6 linked regions of the Homo sapiens genome follow. The protein of the gene in region 2 purifies or fractionates together with the protein of the main gene of each other region. This does not show direct contact. Each region holds a gene or a part of one and is shown on either strand. Other genes may lie near its edges. The genes, in order: BLTP3B, AMOTL1, SCML1, RNF146, MRPS9 and CDADC1.

What was found.
Region 1: the proteins of AMOTL1 (region 2) and BLTP3B purify together in Homo sapiens (affinity purification with mass spectrometry, with the first as the bait; one large-scale study listed by BioGRID). This does not show direct contact.
Region 3: the proteins of AMOTL1 (region 2) and SCML1 purify together in Homo sapiens (affinity purification with mass spectrometry, with the first as the bait; one large-scale study listed by BioGRID). This does not show direct contact.
Region 4: the proteins of AMOTL1 (region 2) and RNF146 purify together in Homo sapiens (affinity purification with western blotting; one study listed by BioGRID). This does not show direct contact.
Region 5: the proteins of AMOTL1 (region 2) and MRPS9 purify together in Homo sapiens (affinity purification with mass spectrometry, with the first as the bait; one large-scale study listed by BioGRID). This does not show direct contact.
Region 6: the proteins of AMOTL1 (region 2) and CDADC1 purify together in Homo sapiens (affinity purification with mass spectrometry, with the first as the bait; one large-scale study listed by BioGRID). This does not show direct contact.

The regions. Positions count from the first base shown.
Region 1 is NC_000012.12:100,055,852-100,059,487, forward strand, and holds part of BLTP3B (bridge-like lipid transfer protein family member 3B), read right to left. Parts: coding exon 2,178-3,636; intron 1,896-2,177; coding exon 1,720-1,895; intron 1,411-1,719; coding exon of another isoform or gene 1,355-1,410; exon of another isoform or gene 1,283-1,354; intron 1-1,282. UniProt on the Homo sapiens protein: Tube-forming lipid transport protein which mediates the transfer of lipids between membranes at organelle contact sites. Required for retrograde traffic of vesicle clusters in the early endocytic pathway to the Golgi complex.
Region 2 is NC_000011.10:94,862,322-94,865,957, reverse strand, and holds part of AMOTL1 (angiomotin-like protein 1), read right to left. Parts: intron 1,224-3,636; coding exon 1,098-1,223; intron 17-1,097; coding exon 1-16. UniProt on the Homo sapiens protein: Inhibits the Wnt/beta-catenin signaling pathway, probably by recruiting CTNNB1 to recycling endosomes and hence preventing its translocation to the nucleus.
Region 3 is NC_000023.11:17,750,857-17,754,492, reverse strand, and holds part of SCML1 (sex comb on midleg-like protein 1), read right to left. Parts: intron 2,679-3,636; coding exon 2,527-2,678; intron 1,236-2,526; coding exon 1,101-1,235; 3' UTR 1-1,100. UniProt on the Homo sapiens protein: Putative Polycomb group (PcG) protein. PcG proteins act by forming multiprotein complexes, which are required to maintain the transcriptionally repressive state of homeotic genes throughout development.
Region 4 is NC_000006.12:127,276,816-127,280,451, reverse strand, and holds part of RNF146 (E3 ubiquitin-protein ligase RNF146), read right to left. Parts: intron 222-3,636; 5' UTR 114-221; coding exon 112-113; intron 1-111. UniProt on the Homo sapiens protein: E3 ubiquitin-protein ligase that specifically binds poly-ADP-ribosylated (PARsylated) proteins and mediates their ubiquitination and subsequent degradation. May regulate many important biological processes, such as cell survival and DNA damage response.
Region 5 is NC_000002.12:105,047,991-105,051,626, reverse strand, and holds part of MRPS9 (small ribosomal subunit protein uS9m), read right to left. Parts: intron 2,457-3,636; coding exon 2,277-2,456; intron 1-2,276.
Region 6 is NC_000013.11:49,264,814-49,268,449, reverse strand, and holds part of CDADC1 (cytidine and dCMP deaminase domain-containing protein 1), read right to left. Parts: intron 2,572-3,636; exon of another isoform or gene 2,408-2,571; intron 1,667-2,407; exon of another isoform or gene 1,607-1,666; coding exon of another isoform or gene 1,594-1,606; intron 961-1,593; coding exon 391-960; intron 1-390. UniProt on the Homo sapiens protein: Catalyzes the deamination of cytidine and deoxycytidine into uridine and deoxyuridine, respectively. May play an important role in testicular development and spermatogenesis.

The sequences.
Region 1 (3,636 bases), on a different chromosome or scaffold from region 2:
CAATAGGCTCTATGTCTGAATTTAAACCACTAATTAGCTGTGTTACTTTGGATTCGTTATTTAACCACTCTCTGAAGATAACAGTATACTATTGACAGAATTGTGAGGTTTAAATTCATTAATATATATACAAAGCATATAGAATGGTACCAACACAAAGTAAATGCTCAATAAATGTTAGCTTCTATTATTACAGAGTTGTCACTCAAATTAAAAGAAGTAAACTATTTAAGCACCTGCAACAGTATGAATGCGTCCCTTTGAAATTCATGTGTTGGCAAAGTGATAGTACTAAGAGGTAGGGCTTTTAAAGGATGATCAGCCCATGAGAGCTTACCCCTACATGAATGGGATTAAGACCCTTAAAAAAGAGGCTTCAGGTAGCTTCTCTTGACCTCCAGAGGACTGCAAAATGCAACGCTTACAATTTGATGAGGTTTGATCTTGGACTTCCCAGCCTCCAGAACTGTGAGAAATAAATTTCTGTTCTTTATAAATTACCCAGTCTGTGGTATTCTGTGATAGAACAAAACAGACATTGCTTGGCAATAAATGGTAGCTACCACTATGGTACTTACATCAATAATACATATTATATTATTACTTATTATATACTTGTTATATTTATTATGTTACTAATTATCTAATCTAAGCTTTTCATCTAAATCAGTGGGCTTATTTCCTTTCAAACAGAAAGTAATTCAGGCCAGGCATGGTGGCTCATGCCTGTAATCCCAGCATTTTGGGACGCCGAGGTGCACGGATCATTCGAGGTCAGGAGTTTGAGACCAGCCTGGCCAACATGACGAAACCCCATCCCTAGTAAAAATACAAAAATTAGCCAGGCATGGTGGTGCATGCCTGCAATCCCAACTACTTGGGAGGCTGAGGCAGGAGAACTGCTTGAACCCGAAGGCAGAGGTTTCAGTAAGCTGAGATCACAATACTGCACTCCAGCCTGGGCGACAGAGTGAAAAAAAAAAAAGAAAGAAAGAAAAAAGAAAGTAATTCATATTTGCCTCTGGTATCCTATGTTTTTGTGTCTGCAGCAACTACTTTCTGACTATGGCCCATGCTTCTAATTCCTGTTTACAAACTCCTTAATGCCTTAATGAGGGAGATGCAACTAACACCTTCTAAGTCATTTCTAGCAGTCTTTACTGGGGCATTGGTTGTCTCTCAATAAAATGGGAAAATCATGTAGTTACACCATATACTATCATATATGTGAAAGAATCCTAATTTTGTAAATCAGTAGAATTCACCATGCAAATTAAGCCCACCTAATCAAATTTCCAAATATAGGAGTCTCTGTAATAGAGGCTGGTAGCCTTAATGTCGCCTGCTTTATGGTCTAAATGACTGCATACATATAATTGCTGGATCTCAGCCATAGAGAGGCAGGAGTATCTGGTTAAAAGAAACAATGGAACAACCATTAGAGGAAAGTTAGGTACTCTTGCATAGTCCCTGTATGTATAAATAAGTCTTTTTGGGGGGCTATAATGAACAATTAGAATATATCTAAAAATAACTAAATATTATTAATAATTAACAATTACTAAATATAAGTAGAAATATTCAGTTATTTTTAGTTATGTTCAGTAACTTTAAAAAGCATGGGTACAGTTAACAATTACTGAATATAACTAAAAGCATCCCTTTTCTCCTAAGGTGTATGTACGTAATATGAATTCTTAAGCCGTATCATAACTTTACCTTTTTCCAAAAACATATGGCTATCACTTCCATCACTTTCTAATAACTGTTCTTCCAATATCATGCTGTCAAGTGAAATGGTATCCAATGACATTTGTGAAGAGCTTCTTTTCATATTCTTATAAGAAACACAGAGAGGAGCCAGGTTGGGTGGGCAACGTTCCTTAGGCTTTCCACTGTTAACAAAATTATTAGAAAATTATTACATATAGAGAAAAGAATTCTATCTAAAAAATACTTCTAAGAGAATTAAAATATGTATATAGCATCCATAGCTGAAATTATATTTAAACGTATAAGCTCAAAGTGTTTTCATATTTTGAAACATCTACTCTTCTACATGTTAACAATGCCATATTTTGTCATGAGCTTTTCTGCCTCAAAACAAAATACACTCATAGGCACACACGCTCCACAAAATAAATTAATTTTTAAAAAGGCCAATAAAATGTTGTTACCTTAAAGATGACTGTGATTTAAGTGTTCTAACTGGGGGGGTCTCTTCTTTACTGATATCCAGGTTTTCAGAGAGTGAAGCTGCTTCTGGAAGCAAATCTTCAGCTTTAAAGATGGACTCTATGGTTTCATTTCCTTTACTAGTTAAAGTACTTGAAAGTATGTTTTGATTACCATCACTATCAAATGAAAGTATATTCGAATCTTCTCTGTAGTTTAAGATACTACTTGAATCTGTATAAAATGAATCCTTTTTGTCACTTGTTTCTGATCCAATTTCTCCTGAGCCACTTTTGTAAACAAGTCCACTACTTTCATCTTCACTTATTTTCCCTAAATGTTTATCTGATAAATAGTCCATAAAAGAAATGCCTTTTTGCAGATTTGTATCACTAGCTGATTTAAAAAGCAAAGGATCCTTTAAAGGGATATGGCTAAGGTCAACACTCATAGATCTGTTGTCTGACATATGATTAACAGTTACACTTCTAATTCTATTTATATCCCTACTAATTTGTTTTCTTTTTGAAGACAAAAAATCCCCATTTTCTGTAGGCAAATAATCAGGTACCACTGGGCTCACACTTTCAGAAACAGGAGACTTAAGAGTATTTGCTTGATCCACTGGATGGAGCAAAAGAGCCAGTTCTGCACTTCTAAGTAAAATTCCAATACAAATGGATGTCTGACTAGCAGGACTGCCAGTTACAGCTTCTACATCTTTCCTTAAGTTCTCTGAAAGCAGGATAAGTGACTCATGCAGGAAAAGTAGAAGCAGATACTGGTAGTGATTAATCTGCATACTGACATGTTTATGAACATGAACTAGGAGATGAATATCTGCCTCTGACGAGGAAGGGGAAAATCTGAAAAATGTATCTGATGAAGAAGGCTTCTGACCACCATTTGTCAAAGGCTCAGACTCTGTACTATAATACTCCTTCAAGAGCTTCTTCCGCTTCAATCGGCCAGCCAGATCACTAGATTCACTTTGTGATGTATTTAGAGATACCTGATTACAAGTCTGCGGCTCTTTTTGTGACTCTGCATATCTTGTTGGTTGACAAATCCAAATGGAAAGAGGGAATGAGTCTACAAAACTTATTGGCCGTCCTTTTCCACTTTTCATCCCTTCATAATCTATCCAAAATTGAGAAAAGTACACAGCCCAAACATCCGTGGCAGCAGAAGTTTTAAGAGTGTTTTTATTCAATTGGGGAGTAATATTTCCTTTATAAATTTCATGCATTTTGGTATCTTGTTCATGAGCATGTCTCTGGAAAATTGGATGTAGAAGATTAAAATTGTCACAAGATTTGGGGAAGCTGGTATATGTTTTACTAAAAAAATCACAATCTTTAAAGTCTTGAAACAAAGCTTCTAGGTCAGAATGTCGACAGTTTGGACAGTGCCTTGTATTTGTGGCAATCATTTCAGAACTCTGAATAGAAATTGCACGTG
Region 2 (3,636 bases):
ATGGAGATTTTTAATACTGTAAAACAAAACAAAACAGTCTCCATAAAAAGCCACTTGGCTAGAAAAACTTGAAACATTTATCTCAGGCTGTCCCAAAGACTTTAATTGTAATTTAGGGATACAGGATGAAGCACAGTACGAGTCTTCAAATGTTGATAATCTCCAAATTGTTAAGACAGGTCTTTTGTCATATGTCAAAAGAGTACACCTTCTCTGGCACCTTGGGAGACTGGGACTTCAGCGAGGTACAGTTAGAATGACCGTGGCCACATTCCTGGACCGAAGTCGGCTGGGGACCATATTTAGAGGGTCTAGCATTGGCGGTGGGGGCCGGGGGTAGGTAGGGGATAGGGAAGCATAAAAACTCTAAAGCCTCAAACAGGGTGAGCTTTCAGCTAAAGTCAATTTCTCTATTTTCTAAGAAAAAAGAACCAAGATGAACAGGTTCTCTGGTAGAAGATGATTTTTCTGGAAGAATGCTGAGTTATTTTCACAACTTTGATAGTAACTCACTGAGCCTATCTATCAATGGCTCAACTACTCAGCCCTATTTTCACATCTGCAAAATAAGAGGCCTAGGGCTCCCAGGGTTCCACAAGCCCTTAGGTAGTGAAGGGGGACAGGCTAGTTTTATTATGTCAAAAAGTCTGCTGGAAATTTTGTGTAGCCCATCAGAAGAGTGCATTAGCTAAATATGTTCTTTATTTTGGACTGGAATATATAAATTCTGGCTCAAAAACTCTGAATCTTTGGGATATAATGTTTCCCCCTTTCAGCTCATAATGTCATAGAGATAGACACCAAGAAATAACACAGACATCTAAATTCTTCTGTCACTAGACTCAGCCTGCATCTTAAAACCGGCAGGTGACACGCAATTTCCCCCAGAGAACTCCGGCACCAGATCCATTGCTGAGTGGAACCACGTGCTTAGGTTGGAACCTTTTCCTTCTCTCCATGGCACAGCATGGGGGAGGAGAGTTTTTGGAGACCTCATGCTCACAGCCTTTCAGAACAGGACAGAGAAGCAATCTGTTCTGGAAGGCCTGGAGTGTGAATGCAGCGGGCCCCACACGTCACACATAGTCGTCCCTTACGTGTATTCCATGTCCTGACACCTTCTGTTGGCCTGCACCACCTCCTCCTCCTCTTGCCAGATGTGGGCCTCCAGCGAGCTCTCTCCGTAGCTGCCATTCCGTGAGTGGTTGATGATCGTGGTGTCCCTGGCAACACAAGGATATGCGTTTGATCATAGGAAACCTTCTTGCTTTGTCTCAATGCAAACAGACACAGAATGGAGAGGCTGGTGTTCATGCTGGAACAGAGATCAGCTCTGCATCTCGCATTGGCTCATGAAGCCTTTCCCTCCCAATTTCCCCAGCTCAGTTATCAATCTCATCTGATGCCCATACAGAGAAAGGTGTAAATGCTTGTGGAGAGGTGATCACAGGGTGCCGTGCTAAAACTCCACAAACTCCTTCACCCACTTTTCCTCTCCTGAATTCTGTCCAATTCTCTTCCTTAACTAGATAGAATTAAGCAGCATCTAAGGAAAACAAAATAAAATTCAAAAATCAAGTCCCCTCCCCCTTCTGACTACATTATGTATGTAGCTACATGGCATGTTATGAATATGTAAAATGGGCACCTAGAGATTTAATCTACTGACTTATGGACACTATTATTATTATTATTATTATTATTATTGTATTTGTTGGTGTTTCCATGCTTGTACTTTTTCATGCTTGTCCTATACCTCACTTTTCCAATCAGAGTTTAGGTTTTATTTCTGTTTATCATCCATACAGCATAGAATGCCTACTTCAGTATTTTACAGTAAAATGGGGGCTCAGTAAATACTTAAAACTGAGACTGGTCCTCTCAGAGAGTGAGGCTCCAAGCTGAAGTCTTCCTTCATGTTGTATTCTGTCTCACTTCTTGTTTTATGGGCCCTGCCTGGGATGCAGGTCAGGACAATGTAATAGGCATGCCAGGGTCCAGGACAGAAAGAAGAAGGCAGACACTGTCCTTGACAAGTTCAGGTGAGGTGGGTGCAGTGAGGGCAAGGGCAGACACGAGAAGATCAAGAAGCAGTTTCACTGCAAGCATCTGTCTGACTATAAACAACCAGTCACAGATAACTATTCCTGCCACTGGTTTTGACAATTTAATTACTACTAACTAACAATGATTAGTAAAAATAAGATCACTGCATCATCTAAGTGATATAGCTCAAGATGAAAGGCACAATAATGGCTCTGACTACATGAGTATTTAATTAGTAAGACATGATGTAGCCAAGTATTTCACATCTTTTAACTTCATATTCCAATGTACAATCATACTGAAAAACTTTTTTTTTTTTGAGATGGAGTTTCATTCTTGTTGCCCAGACTGGAGTGCAGTGGCGTGATCTCAGCTCACTGCAACCTCCACCTCCTGAGTTCAAGCGATTCTCTTGTCTCAGCCTTCCAAGTAGCTGGGATTACAGACATGCGTCACCACATCTGGCTAATTTTGTATTTTTAGTAGAAATGGTGTTTCACCACGTTGGTCAGGCTGGTCTCAAACTCCTGACCTCAGGTGATTCACCCGCCTCAGCCTCCCAGAGTGCTGGGATTACAGACGTGAGCCACCGCGCCCCGCCTGAAAACTTTAAAGCTTTTTTTTTTTTTTTTACAGAATAGCCCAAAACAGAAAAATAGAGGCCCCTTTAATGACAGCTATCAACATTAATGAGCATTTACTTCATACAGGGACTGGGTAGGGCACGGTACACATGGTCTCTCATTTAGTTCTCACAACTTGTGCACAAGGTATTATTATCCTCAATTTCTAGATGAAGAAACCAGGGTTAGGTGACATTTCCAAGAATACTCAGTTAGTGAATAGTGAAAATGGATTCTAACTCAGGTATTTATGACTCCAAAGTCCATGCCCCTAACCATCGCTCTATACTCCTGCAAGTTTCATATGTCTTTAAGAAGAAGGTCTCAGCAAAGATGAGTAAAGATAAAAACAAACCAGAGGGCATATGTGAGAATGTGGCTCAGAAAAGTGCAAAGTGTCATTGAAAATACACTAAAGGCCAAATGATGTAGAAAGCAAACAAAATGCTTTAAACATATTTGCAAAATTATAAATTCACACTATGGTGCACAAAATCATCAATATAGAAATTAGTGGCTAGAAACATTTTCAACAAATTTACTTTTGGAGACTTTACATGGAGCTGGAAACAAATCTGAAAATTCATGTTTACATTGCCAAGTAAGGAGAGCAAACACAATTAGAGGAAAGCAACTTAGATAGTAAATATATAAAACTCTGAAAGAAATATTACATTGCTTTGAAATTTTTAAAAATTTTCAAAACCTTCTGCACACATAAAAGATAAGCTGACTCTCTAAAAATTCTGACCAACACCATCAAGATGCATAAAGATGGGAAAACCAGTTGGTTTACAGAAGTTATTTTCTTTGTTTAAAAATCATTGATTATAAATATAAAGCATGCATCTGTGGTTGAAAAGTCACAAAACTAATGGCTGGAAATAGTCATTTTTACCAATTTGACTGTGGCCATTTAGCACCTAGTCAATAAGAGCTCAAAATGTGTACCTTTCTCAAAAATGTT
Region 3 (3,636 bases), on a different chromosome or scaffold from region 2:
TAATTAGAAACATTGCATAGGACGGAGAACTTCCCTGTATGGAAACCAATCTACAGATTGTTTCTTGTCCTCTAAAAAGTAAGTTGAGAGGTACTAATGATGGCAAATAATCCATTTATATTTTACAAAATAAAACATTTCACTAATATATGGCTCATCCTACCTCTGTGGCAATACAAAATGCCATTTCAAATTTTTTTTAAAAAGATTGTGTGAATACTTCGGGTGAGAATAAAATATAAAATACTATCTATATAAAGAATAAACACATAAAATACAGTTATGCCTTTTAAAAGTTTGGACAGACGTATCTTCATAGAGAGATGCAAACAATGAAAGTGTAGTTATAGGTCCAAACTTAGCCAAAATATGACAGTTTTAATATAATAGTTTGTTTGAAAAAAAGTAGTCAGACTTCATCCAAACCACCCTTGCGGTACAATATTTCTTGCATAAAATAACCATTCTATCTATCCTATAGTTTATCTTAAAACTGTTAAGAGCACATAATAAAAGTTTATATGCTTATTTTTTACTCTAAATCTGAATAAATAAAACATATAGAGAAATAATAGCAGAAAGGAAAATAATTTATATGGCTATTCTCTTTCTGGAAACTTGTAGAATACTGCAACATCAGACAGATAAAATACTCCAGAAAGAGATATATATGGGTACACCTTTAAATTCTCTTCTGAGGAATAATTCCCATAGATTCAATCATAGGAGTTGTCAACCCTGATAATACCTCTCTTAGCTGTTTTGGTTCTCTGTATCGAGATGAACCAGAATCAAAGGGTTTTTTTTTTTTTCTGTTTCTTGCATGAAATATATTTGTAAACAATATAATAAAAGTAATTTTTAAAGACCTATAAAGAATGAATTTTCTATTGGACTATTCTAATACTATCTAGCAGTTTAAATGGTTTTTAAAGAAGTAGACTGGACTATAACATAGTTCTACAATTCTAGCTATAATATATTTTGAGAGATACTTTCTACAAAACAAAAACGACTAAAGGGCAGAAAAATGATTCCACACTAAGAAGGCATTGGTGCCTCTAGAAGTTGGCCCAATCTAAATTTGCACAAGGATTTTTTCAATTTTCAAAGCATTTTCCTTGTTTAAGTCGGTCAATGTAGTAGCATAGCTTCACAGCCGTTCCCAGCTTCACCCCCAAGTGCTTCAGCAACACGTCACTCGTGAGTAGGAGCAGAGCCTTCCCGTCAATTTCCTATGGAGAGAAGAAACTTAACGATAATTAATAATGCTTCCATATTTTCATCAGAATGGTTAGTTCTTTATGAGAACATGTAAAGCAAACTAGAGAGCAGCTCATTGCAGATGTATATTCTCTGAATATGCGTCTACTTTATGAAAACTATTAAAAATATAACTTGTACAGTGAAGCACCGTTTGGTAATGTATAAACTCATTTCAAGTTCTGAGAAAAAGGAAATTTAACATAATATCTTAAAAAATAAACTGTGTCAAACTTAATTTTAAATATATACTGTATGTTGAATAAAATACTACACATCCATGACAAAATAGTAAAGACTATGAATAGTAAAAATGAATTTCAGATGTTCATTAACTTTCTGAGAAGGGCTGGGAAGATGAGTACGTCAACATCAGTGCAAACTGTAAATGTCTATACAATGTTGTCTTTATGATGAATGCCAATTAGTTGTCTGAAACTAATTAGATGCTAAAACTAATCACCAATTTTCTTACTATATTAAAAATCAGATATGTGGCTACTAATTTTGTTAGGACACACTGTGAAAATATCTGAATAAATAAAACATAGTCACAAAGCATTCTCCTAAAATTCCTTATCTTAATTGATCAACTTATGCTGCTGAAGCATATGATTTGGTTTTATATGTTCCAGTTAAAAAATAAAATTTTATTTACTCATTTAACACTATCTGAAAAGGTCTGAAATCCCTTATAGTACAACCTTTGTTTGGCACCTTCTATACTTTTTCTACTAAGTAAAACTCAAAATTAAAGAAACTAGAACTTACAAAACTTCGGCCTAGGATATTACTTTGTAAATGGTCTGATAATAGCAAGAGGGTATTAGCATTACAAATCATCAATAATCGAGGCAAATGGAATCAGTTGTTGAATCACTGGTTATATAAAACGAAGGCCACCCTGTTATAGCTTGTGGTTACCCCCTCCTCCTCGTGGTCCTGGTGCCCAGCTGGGAGCAGATAGGGGGAGGATCTTTGTATCTGTCATTACAAAGGGGAGGTACACCTGAGTGGCCATGCTGAATCATCATGTCTTAAGAAGCTGAGGCAGTTTGTATTTTAGGCACTTCTACACCCATTTAAAGAACAGACCATTAGCCTACCATTTAAGGCTAACCTTGGGCAAAATAAGCTTTCTCATATATGGAAAAATCAGCTAATAGGGTTCTCCCACCATTCACACAGTATCCAACTGAAAGACCTGCACAGAGGTCATTCAAAGGCATTACAGCAGGAAAACAGGATCAAAAGATACATTACATGGCTTCTGAAGAGGTCGACAAGAGGGCATAATGCAAGAGGATCTGTTTGTTTTAGAAATAGGACCACTGCTTCCACCGACCAGGTTGAAGGGTGCTTAGTGATGCTTCCTTCCTCTATGTAACCGTCATTTTCAACTGGTGACCTTGTAACTTCAATGGAGAGGGGGAAAAGAAAAAAAAGACAAATCACACTCGACCTGATCATTATCCTGAAAGAAGAGATGTTAGGTAAGGAGGAATGCTCTCTTTGTTGGAACCTTCTGTGATGTTCCTAGCAAGGAGTCAAGACTCCAACTGTAAAATCTAGTGAAAGCCTATATAAAGATGATGTGGGGATGCCTACACAAGAGTGTCCCATCTGACCTCCCCTAAATAGCAAAAGCTGGTTCAGAAGTTACATTAAAGTTTCAAAGATCACAAAACAGACTAAGTAAACCAAGTCTTCTTTGGCCACAGGCAAATATGGCAAAAGATCTGTCACTTGGGTAAAATTAGGTTAATCTAACCTAACCTATGACTCTCTTCAAGTATTTCAAGGAATTTCTCTCTTAATCTATCTAGATTAGGTTAATTTTACTAGCAAAATATAATGGAAATTCTCCAAATTTACAGTTTTATAATTGCTTAAATTTGTTCCTTTTAATCAATGAATCTCAATAACAACCCCATTATCTTTAAGAACCAAATTAGTACTTTTATCAAATCTTCCCCACGTATTCAATAAGGTTATTTTTAGTATCGCTTTACTTTTTAGATTCCTGTCTCTCGTGGCTTAAGTGCTAATGTGCATTGTGAAGAAAACAAGATTATTTTCTGCTGAACTAGGTCAGAAGTAACTAACATTTTATTTAATTCCTCTTTCATGTTTAATTGCATAGTAATAGAGATTTTGGTCAAAGGTTTATATGTTTAAAAAATAACTGAGATATGAGACAGTTTAACTGCTCATACTTCAGAAAGTTTTAGCTATGCTCTACACTAAGTTGTGTTGAAATTTCTTTGTGTACTGACAAGTATCCTTTTACTCACCCACAGTGTTAGACTCCCTAAAATTAGTGTGTGATGACTAAAGTGGGTTTTGTAATTAGTTAGGAAAATTTGTTTCTCC
Region 4 (3,636 bases), on a different chromosome or scaffold from region 2:
GCTCATTTAATATAATTAAAACTACATATGACAGATACTCAATTTACCACACGTTAAACCAATCCATTTAATTTACTGCAGCACTGAAAAAAACCATGATGCTACACTTACATTTCTATTACAGATCCCACAGATGCCTGCCACAAAAATAAAGCATTTTCTTCACCAGCAGTCAGCCAGCTTACAGTATTTTCTCTTCCACTGCTGGTTCATTCTTTGTGCTGCAAAAGAAAAAAAGAGTAATTAAGATCAAGAGAATCAGTTAATTATGTATAATCCTTTCAAAAAATTCAGTGGAAAACTTTATCTTAAAAGTGGGAAAAATTAAAGACAAGATGCATGCTTTTACCACTGCTATTCAACATGACTGTAAGTTCTAGCAGAGCAAATTAGGGAAAAGAGATAAAGGCATACAGACGGGTAAGGAGGAAGTAAAACTATGTCTATTCTCTCTAGATAGAAGATCTCATAGAATCCCCAAGAAAGCTAATAAACAAATTCAGCAAAGTTGCAGGTTACAAGTTTGACACACAAAAAAATCAGTTGTGTTCTGATACACCAGGAGACAACAATCCAAAAAAGAAATCAAGAAAACAGTTCATTCATAAAGTAACTAAGGGAATAAAATAGCCAGGAATCAACTTAACCCAGGAGGTGAAGGACTTGTACACAGAAAACTATAAAGCATTACTGAAAGAAATTAAAGAAGAGCTAAGTAAATAGACAAGTGATGTATGGATTGGAAGACTTAACATATTAAAATGACAATACTACCCAAAGTGATCTACAGATTCAACATAATTCCTATCACAATTCCAACAACCTTTTTTGCAGAAATGGAAAAGCAATCCTCAAATTCATATGGAATTGCAAAGGACCCTAAGTAACCCAAACAATCTTGAAAAATCCAATGTCAAAACTTACTACAAAGCTAAGGTAACAAGACAGTTTGGTGCTGGCATAGGACAGATAAATACACCAATGATATAGAATTGAGAGTCCAGAAATAAACTCATACATCAATAGCCAACTGATTTTCCAAAAGGGTGTCAAGTCTACTCAATGGGGGAAAACAGGCACCTCTAACTAATGTTGTTGGGACAACTGGATTTCCACATGCAAAATAATTAAGCTGGACCTCTACCGTATACTATATATAAAAGTTAACTCAGAATGAATCAATAACCTAAATATAAGAAATAAAACCATAAAACTCTTAATAGAAAACACAGGAGCAAATCTTCATGGCCTTAGATTTGCAATGGATTCCTAGATATGACATCAAAAGCATGAGAAACATAGGAAATAAATTGGGCTTTATATAAGTTTAAAATTTTTGTGCATCAAAAGACACTGTTAAGAAAATAAAAAGACAAACTGCAGAATGGGAGAGTATCTTGGCAAATCATGTATCTGATAAAGGTTTAATATCCAGAATATGTAAAGAACTGCAGCTCAACAACAAAGACAAACCAATTAAAAAGTGAGCAAAAAATGAGTAAAGAACTTAAAGAAGATACACAAATGGCCAATAAACACACAAAAAGATCCTTAACATTATTAGTAATTAGGGAAATGTAAATCAAAATCACAATGATACATCTATAAGGAGGCTACAACTTTTTTAAAGGGAAAAATAATAAGTGTTGGTGAGGATGTAGAAAAATAGGACCTTTGAAAACTGCTGGTAGGAAGGTAAAAGGGTGTAGCTGCTGTGAATAATAATTTGTTGCTTCCTCAAAAAGCTAACACAGCAATGCCACTCCCAGGGATATAGCAATAGAATTGAAGAGGTTCTCAGACACTTGTATGCCAATATTCACTGCGGAAATATTAGGCAAAAGGTGGACACAATTCAAGTATCTACCAACAGATGAATGGATAAACAAAATGTGGTCTATAAATACAACAGTACATTATTCAGTAATAAAAAGAAATATGTGCTACAATATAGATGAACCTTGAAAACATACTAATAAGCCACATACAGAAAAGTATGATTCCACTTACATGAAATATCAAGAATAGGCAAATTCATAGAAGCAGAAGGTATCAGAAGTTACCAGAGAGTGAAGGAAGGAAAGTGGAGAGTTATTGCCTAATGGGTACAGAGTTTCTGTTTGTAATGCTAAAAAAAAGTTGTGGAAAATCTATAATGGTGATAGTTGCATAACATTGTAAATGAAATTAACTACATGGAATTGTACTCTTAAAAACCTGTACCATCTCAGTCATTAATCTTCTTTCTTCTCATTTAGTATTTCCATCTCCACCTCACCATGTCCACTACAGGACGCACATCATATTACACAGAATAATCAAGAACACATGATAACTAAAGAAATGATAGATCTCACAGTAAACACAAGATAGAGGAGACTTCAATCTTCTTTTATTTCCATGTGGCTCTCATACTATGGGCATCTATCTCCCTACGGTATCTTAAGATTCTAGTGTTTAAAGAAACATATTCTTAATGCCATTATGTGGCCCCTAAATACAAGCTGACTTATCCTACCAAATGTTTAACAGAACAAACAATTTGTTTTAAAATCAGAGAACTTTCAAAAGTAACTGACTGTGATGGTTAATACCGAGTGTCAACTTGATTGGAGTGAAGGATACAAAGTATTGATCCTGGGTGTGTCTGTGAGGGTGTTGCCAAGAGATTAACATTTGAGTCAGTGGGCTGGGCAAGGCAGACTCACCCTTAATCTGGTGGGCACAATCTAATCAGCTGCCAGTGAATATAAAGCGGGCAGAAAAATGTGAAAAAGAAAGATGGGCCTAGCCTCCCAGCCTACATCTTTCTCCTGTACTGGATGCTTCCTGCCCTCGAACATCAGACTCCAAGTTCTTCAGTTTTGGGACTCGGACTAGCTCTCCTTGCTCCTTGCAGACAGCCTGTTGTGGGACTTTGTGATCGTGTAAGCTAATACTTAATAAACTCATATATATATTCTATTAGTTCTGTCCCCCTAGAGAACACTGCCTAATATACTGACTAAACAAGGTTTCTAAGTAACCTTTTTGTTTTACTCTGACTTTAGATGAAATGGACTCCACTATTTTGACTTTCCTCTCAACCCTTTCACCAACTTCAAGGAGCCTACAACTTCAATGGCATCAAAGAAGGCTATGTTCATTTCCTTGCTGCAGCCTACGCCAAACAGAAAACTGCACATTTTCATACACTCCCTATATATAGGACAGGAGGAGACAATTTACTGCTCCAACATCATTACTTTTTCTTTCAAGTCTCTATCACACTGACTTTAACATACCCCATAATCCCCTAAAACTGCTCTCTCACCACCTGTAAGGGATTAATGTCATCTTTTCACTACTGATCATCCTCTTCATCCTAACTCCTGACATGACTATCAGCCTATTTAAATAGCCTTGAAAATGAACCATCCAACACCTATTGCACAGGTTCTTAAACTTGTCCCAACTTCTATTCATCAGAATCACTGAAATTGCTTGTTAGAAATACATATTCTCAGCCCCTTTCCTTAGAAATTCTAGGCCAGTAGACATAGGTTTAAACCTAGGAATCTCACCCCAGGTGGTACTCATGCTTTAGTCCTTCAAATACAATCTGAGAAACACCATCCTCAATTTTCAGTTCCTTAA
Region 5 (3,636 bases), on a different chromosome or scaffold from region 2:
TCAAAATCTATCTAGAGATTCAGCACAATCCCTATCAAAATCTTAGGTGGCTCCTTGCAGGAACTGACAAGCTGATCCTAAAATTTCATATGAAAATTCGAGGAGCAAAGAACAACCAAAATAGTCTTTAAAAGCAAGAAGGAAAGAAGACTACTTACACTTCCCAATTTCAAAACTTACTATAAAGCTACAGTAATCAAGACAAAGTGGTACTGGCATAAGGATAAATGTATAGATCAATGGAATAAAATAAGGTCCAGAAATAAGCCCTCATAGTTACACTGATATTCAATATAAGTGATAAAATAATTCAATGGGAAAAAATAGTCTTTCCAACAAATGATGCCGGAACAACTGAATGTCCATATGTAAAAGAACAAAGCTACATCCCTGCCTCACATCACACACAAAAATTACGTTAAAATGGATCAAAGACCTAAATGTAAGAGCTAAAACTACAAAACTAGAAGAAGAAAATATAAGGGTGAATTTTCATGACCTTGGATTAGCAATGGTTTCTAAGGTATACACATAAGAGAAATAAAAACATATGTCTACACAAGAACTTTATAGCATGCACATTCTTAGCAGTATTATTCATCAGAACTAAAAATGGAAATCCAAATGCCCATCAACTGATGACTGAATTCTTAAAATGTGGTATATCCATACAATCGAAAACTATTCAGTAATAAAAAGGAAGTACTGACACATGCCACAATGTAGATAAACATGAAAACATTGTGCTAAGTGAAACAAGTCAGTCACTAAAGACCAAATACTGTATGACTCTACTTATATGAAAGTCCGGGGTAGGCAAACTTAGAGTCTAGAGAGTCTATGTTCTAGGTGATTTGAAAATTAGGACCTGAATTCTATTCCTGTTGCACTCTTCAATTATTACATTCCTGACAAAAGCAATAATGGTCAATAATTTTTTTTGCTAAATGCCCCAGGATAGCTAGCAAAGGAGCTTAAATTTAACAACTTTGAATCTTGTTCTAATTTTTAAAATGTAATATCTAACATCTCATGGTATTTTATACTTAACTGAAGAATAGCATCTCTTTATGGAAAATATCCCCCAATACTGTCCAGATTACCATAAAACTCAAAAAGAGGACAGCAGCTACAAAGTCCCTAATTACAAATCACCTAACATAGAAGAGCAATAAGAAATCCTTCTGGACCGGGCCGGGTGGCTAACGCCTGTAATCCCAGCAATTTGGGAGGCTGAGATGGGTGGATCGCCAGAGGTCAGGAGTTCAAGACCAGCCTGACCAACATGGTAAAACCCCATCTGTACTAAAAATACAAAAATTATCTGGGTATGGTGGTGCGTGCCTGTAAGCCCAGCTACTCAGGAGGCTGAGGCAGGAGAACTGCTTGAAGCCAGTAGGCAGAGGTTGCTGTGAGCCAAGATCGTGCCACTGCACTCTAGCCTGGGCAACAGAGCAAGACTCTGTCTCAAAAAAAAGAAAAGAAAAGAAAAGAAAAAAATCCTTCTGGTTGAATAAAAAATGTTGGTCTGAAAGTGATACTACAGTACCATTTATAAATAGGAAAAGTATACAGAAAGATTGAAATTAAACTAAAGTGCATAAAATGACTAAAAATAATATTAAAATCGTATAAGAATGTTATTATCTATACAAAGATGTTGTTCTTCGATTAAATATAAAACATCATGGGATATTAGATGTTACTTTTTAAAAATAAGGACAAGATTCAAAGTTGTTAAATTCAACTTCCTTTGCTAGCTACTCTAGGATGTCTAGCAAAAATATTATCGACAATTACTGCTTTTATCAGGAATATAATAATTCAAGAGTGAATAGAATTCTGATCCTAATTTTCAAATCACTTAGACTACGCCCCCATTTTGAAACCTCAGATATATATTTAAGTTGACAAAAACACTGGGCCAAGGTTTACTTATGGGACTTGATATAAATTTGACTCTATTTTCATTACCATCTGTTATATCATTTTGTAAGAAAGCTGAGTCTAAGACTACACAACAGGTTAAACATTTCCCAATAGTGTATGAGCATTTATAGACTCATTTCTAGGTAACACCTAAAACTCACCATACTAAGTAAATCCTGCACATTTGTCTTTGAAACCATGGCTCCAACTTAAACAATGTATAGCAGCATTTTTCCTTATTCTGACAGCTTGATTAAAACACAGAGCTAAGGGGCTCATGAAGAAAAGTGCTTTTAATATCTAAAACTCTACAGCAATTACTTTTTCAACAGAGTAACTGTACTTACGTCAATATCTTCTTGAGTGAAAGTTTCTGGATCTTCTCCCATCATGTTGGCTAAATGTCTCTTTCCTATGTTGAACTCTTCAATCTGCTTTTTAATAAAATCCTCTGTGTAAGTTTCACGTTTTGAGGTAGGAACGTTTTTCTTTGGTATTACAAATGCAGTATGTCTTAGCCTTAATATCTAACAGAAAATATAGATGGAAAGAAAAGAAAATAAATTAAACTGTGATCTTCTAGGCCATTGTCCTTAAATAAAATAGTATATGCAAGTAGTTATCTTTTTTTATTACGGTATTCAAGTGACAGGAGTCCAAAAAGCAAGTTTAAAGGACCTGCTAAGAAAGTTGTTAGAATGTGTCCCCTACTCAAAGCCTTGCTTACAATGCAGTTTAAGCTACTAGCATTTCAATACATTAAAACCAAAAATACCTGTAAGTGGTATGCTACCTCCTGATCTATTTTAAACATCCACTTTTGATAATGATTGGTCAATGTCAGTGAGTTTTGATATTTGACACATGGGATAAAGAGCAAAAGGCTACTCCCTTAAGGAGGCAAATACACACGCACCAGAAACCAGCAAGCAGAAAACACGACAGCAAACGGCATGGCCTGAGGAAGAGCACCTTACACTGTCGGTATTCACCTTATTTGTGGGTAAAAATACGTCCTATCTTTAACCATCTTTTGGCTTAGCTTAAGACTTTATTCCATGGTCCTTATATTAAAGTGATAAAAAGAAAAAATTGCTTGACTGAACATTGAGAAGATTTATTAATTTGGCTCAACATGCTAACTGCAGAAATAAGGGCTCGCATATCTTTTATTTTTCTTTTTTTTAAAATTATTATTATACTTTAAGTTTTAGGGTACATGTGCACAATGTGCAGGTTAGTTACATATGTATACATGTGCCATGCTGGTGTGCTGCACCCATTAACTCGTCATTTAGCATTAGGTATATCTCCTAACGCTATCCCTCTCCCCTCCCCCCATCCCACAACAGTCCCCAGAGTGTGATGTTCCCCTTCCTGTGTCCATGTGTTCTCATTGTTCAATTCCTACCTATGAGTGAGAACATGTGGTGTTTGGTTTTTTGTCCTTGCAATAGTTTACTGAGAATGATGATTTCCAATTTCATCCATGTCCCTGCAAAGGACATGAACTCATCATTTTTTTATGGCTGCATAGTATTCCATGGTGTATATGTGCCACATTTTCTTAATCCAGTCTATCATTGTTGGACATTTGGGTTGGTTCCAAGTCTTTGCTATTGTGAATAGTGCCGCAATAAACATACGTGTGCATGTGTCTTTATGGAGAGGATGTGGAGAAATAGGAACACTTTTACACTGTTGGTG
Region 6 (3,636 bases), on a different chromosome or scaffold from region 2:
AGCTCAAGCGATCCTCCTGTCTCAGCCTTCTAAAGTGTTGCAATTACAGGCATGAACCACTGCACTGGGCCTCTCCTTTCTCTTCTTGTCCTACCTTTAGTGGAGGGCTCAAGGAACAGTGAAATCATAAAAGCAAGAAGCAGAAAGAAGGGCCTAGATTAATGAGGGCCTGATGTAGAAATGTGGTACTGAATATAAGGCTACAAGGAATCCCAAAACTGCTGGGAGAAAGAGTTGTCTACTCAAGGGTCTCACTAACTTCTCTATATTGTATGAACAGCAAAACTTAAGTAACTATGAGTAAATGAACTCTACCATAAATGAGACGAACACTTCAGAGACAAATACAACCCAACCAATCAGCCCCAATTTACGATCTATGTAACTCACCAGTTCGATATGCCAATAACCTGGCCTGAACCATGCAGTGCCTTGCAATTTCCTGTGGCAAACTTTGATTGTGAATTTCATTAATCTGTTCTGGATTGCTACGGTAAAATCCGAAGTGTTTAAAGTTCGGCACACTGGAAGCTACTGTGGCCAAAAGTAGGATAAGGTCTTTCATGTTTTGCCTTAGATTGCTAAAGTATGGATTTTCACACAGGTTCTCCAAACCTATAGTCATCAGTATTTGCTTATGCATTTCTTCATTTGAAACCAAAAATAACATTTCATATTCTTTTATTCTTTCTTGTTTACATTCATAATAAAAGTCAGTGTTAGCATCCGGCAATGTTTTTGTAATTTTTTGAATAAAGTCACATTTGTAAGAGGTCTCCTCTACAAACTGCACCATATAACACACCAAAGGTTGAAGTAAGACACACACATGGGCCCGACTGTTTGACTTCAATCTTTCCACTGCTTTGGCATCTAACTTTGCATCTTCAGAACTAGAAGCCTCCGTAAGCAAACTTATTTCTGGATCAGCAGGCCAGTATGAAATTCGGTTAACTCCAGCTGAAATACAAAATACGAAAGGTAATTATGAGATACATGCTGAATTTAGGGTTTTCATTATAAAATCCACCCTATCATTGCAGTATATCTAGAACCCTCAATATAATAAATGTCTATTACCAAGTCACCTATTATATAGCCTGAGGGTTGGCAAACTACCACCCACAGGCCAAATCCAGTCCACTGCCAGTCTTTGTACAGCTCACAGGTTAAGAATGGGTTTTACATTTTAAAATAGTTGGACAAATCAAAAGAACATTTTGTGACACATCGAACTGTCAGAAATTCAAATTTCAGTATCCATAAATAAACCTTTATTGAAACACAGACACACCCATTCACTTATATAGTCTTTGGGTGCTTTCGTGTGGCAGAGTTGAGTAGCTGTGACAGACACCACACGGCCTGCAAAGTCTAAAATATTTATTATCTGGCCTTTTCAAGAAAAAGTTACCCAGCCTCTCACAGAGCCTCTAGGAATGCATTTGTGGAGTTACTGGTGTTGTGAAGTGTGATCCCAAAGCCCAGCGCTAAAACTATATACTCGAAGAGTCCTCCATGGTGCCATGGCTGTTTTTTAAAATCTTACAGGGAACAACTAATATTGCCTAGTTTTCTATCTGGAATAAATACCTCTTCCATGCATTAAAAATGTTCCTCTCCACAGACTGAGAATTCTTCTGAGAATCCATTCTAGGAAAATATTCTAAATACAGAGAAGAAATCTCATGCATGCACATTTAGTGCAGCATTCTTTAAAATAGCAAGCAAAGACGTTAAACAAACAAAAAACCCAAACCCAAAAACCTAAATGACCAAAATAGGGGAATGGTTGAATTAATTATGGTCCTCCTCATAATAAAACAGTTATCAAATATGTCCACAAAGAATTTATAACATGAAAAAATTCTTATGTGATGTTGGGATGGTGTCTGAAGGGCAATATTAACTTTTTAAAGCTTACAAAATTAAAGACAAAACAACAAACTAAATAGATCATTTTTCAATCAGTGTGACAGAGGAAAGGTTAGTAATGTTTAATATACAGAAAATATTTCAATTCATTAGAGCACATATGAATTGACAAGAATAAGGCCTAAAGAGAGACAAAAAGATACGAACAGACAATTTGTAAAAGAGAAAACATAACAGGATAACAAATGTGAAAAAATATTTTAATTTGTATTTGAAATTGAACGATGAGATGCCTTATACATAGTTAAGTACACAAATGTTCGTCAATTAATGAACAGTTTATAACAAAGAGACCCCTTTGCTAGTACTGCATGTAATTTCAGCTAGGAGAGATTTTTTTTTTGTGATTGTACCCAGAAGCAAATAGAAAGAGAGCCCACAGAGTGTTCTACCCTTCAAAATAATTGATGAACTAAAAAGTCTCAGTTAAACAAATAAACATTCTATCCACTCCCTGGTACTCCTGACTCACTGTGGCTTATGCTGCAAAGCAATTTTGAAGGCCTCAAACCTCATATCAGAGTGTTTCCTCCGGTTGCATTTCACCTTCCCTCTGTTCGAGTTCTCATAATCCATTTCCTAACCAGCAGTGATGGTAAACCTTTCATCTAGGCATCTTAGCTGCTTCCAGTAATCCTGATTCAAGAGGGGAAAAATCCTCTTTAGACAGACATTTGTGTATTAGTGGCAAATGCTAAAGCAGAGTTTCTCAAATTTTTTGATCTCAGGATTCCTTAACACTCTTAAAAATTATTGAGGACTCCAAAAAGCTTTTATTTATGTGGAATATATCTACTGATATTTACTGTACTTGAAAATTAAAACAAAATTTAAAATATTTATTAATTCATTAAAAATAACAATAATCTGTTATACATTAATATAAATAACATTAGCTTTATGAAAAAAACTATTTTCCAAAACAAAAATTTGTAAGAATGAGATTGTTTTAAATTTTTACAAATATCTTTAATATTTGGATTAATAGTAAAAGGAAAAACAATAGTTATCAGCAATATCACTGGAAAATTAAGAAGAGTGGAAGGACAAAACTGAGCAGCAGAATTCGTATAGACATTTAAATTTAAATTCTAAAAGCCCAATTGAGATTTTCAGGGAGGGTTTGTTCTGCCCTTTGGCCTCATGAATGAGTTTCATGAAGGGTTTCATGGATGGGCTTCAGTGGCCTATAAACTCTGTAAATTCCATTCTAATTTTTGCACATTTATTGTGTTCTGGTTAATTCCAGAAGACATTTCTAACATTTTTCTTACATCATATAATCAAAGTACTTAAATAAATTGACAATTATAAAAATAGATCAGTGAAATGCACCTTATACTTTAATAAAAAATGTTTTCAGAAATAGATAAGTGAAAGCTGAGTGTTTCTTTGATAGATTCCCCTGTACTATAGGAGTGATAATTGCAGCTATTGCAATAGTAGTAATTGTTAAATGGATACTAATGAATAGCATAGCATAGTGGGTAAGAGTTTATATAGCACAGGCTCTAGAATCAGATTAAGTAGGTTCAAATACCAGTTCTGCCAGTAACTGGCTTTAGAAACTTGGGCAAGTTAAATAATGTCTCCCAGCCTCAGTTTCCCTATTTGTAAAATGGGGGAAATAATGGTAGCTACCTCATAATTCATTATGAATTCAGTGAGTTAAACTTGAAAAGACTTATTACAGTAGCTGGC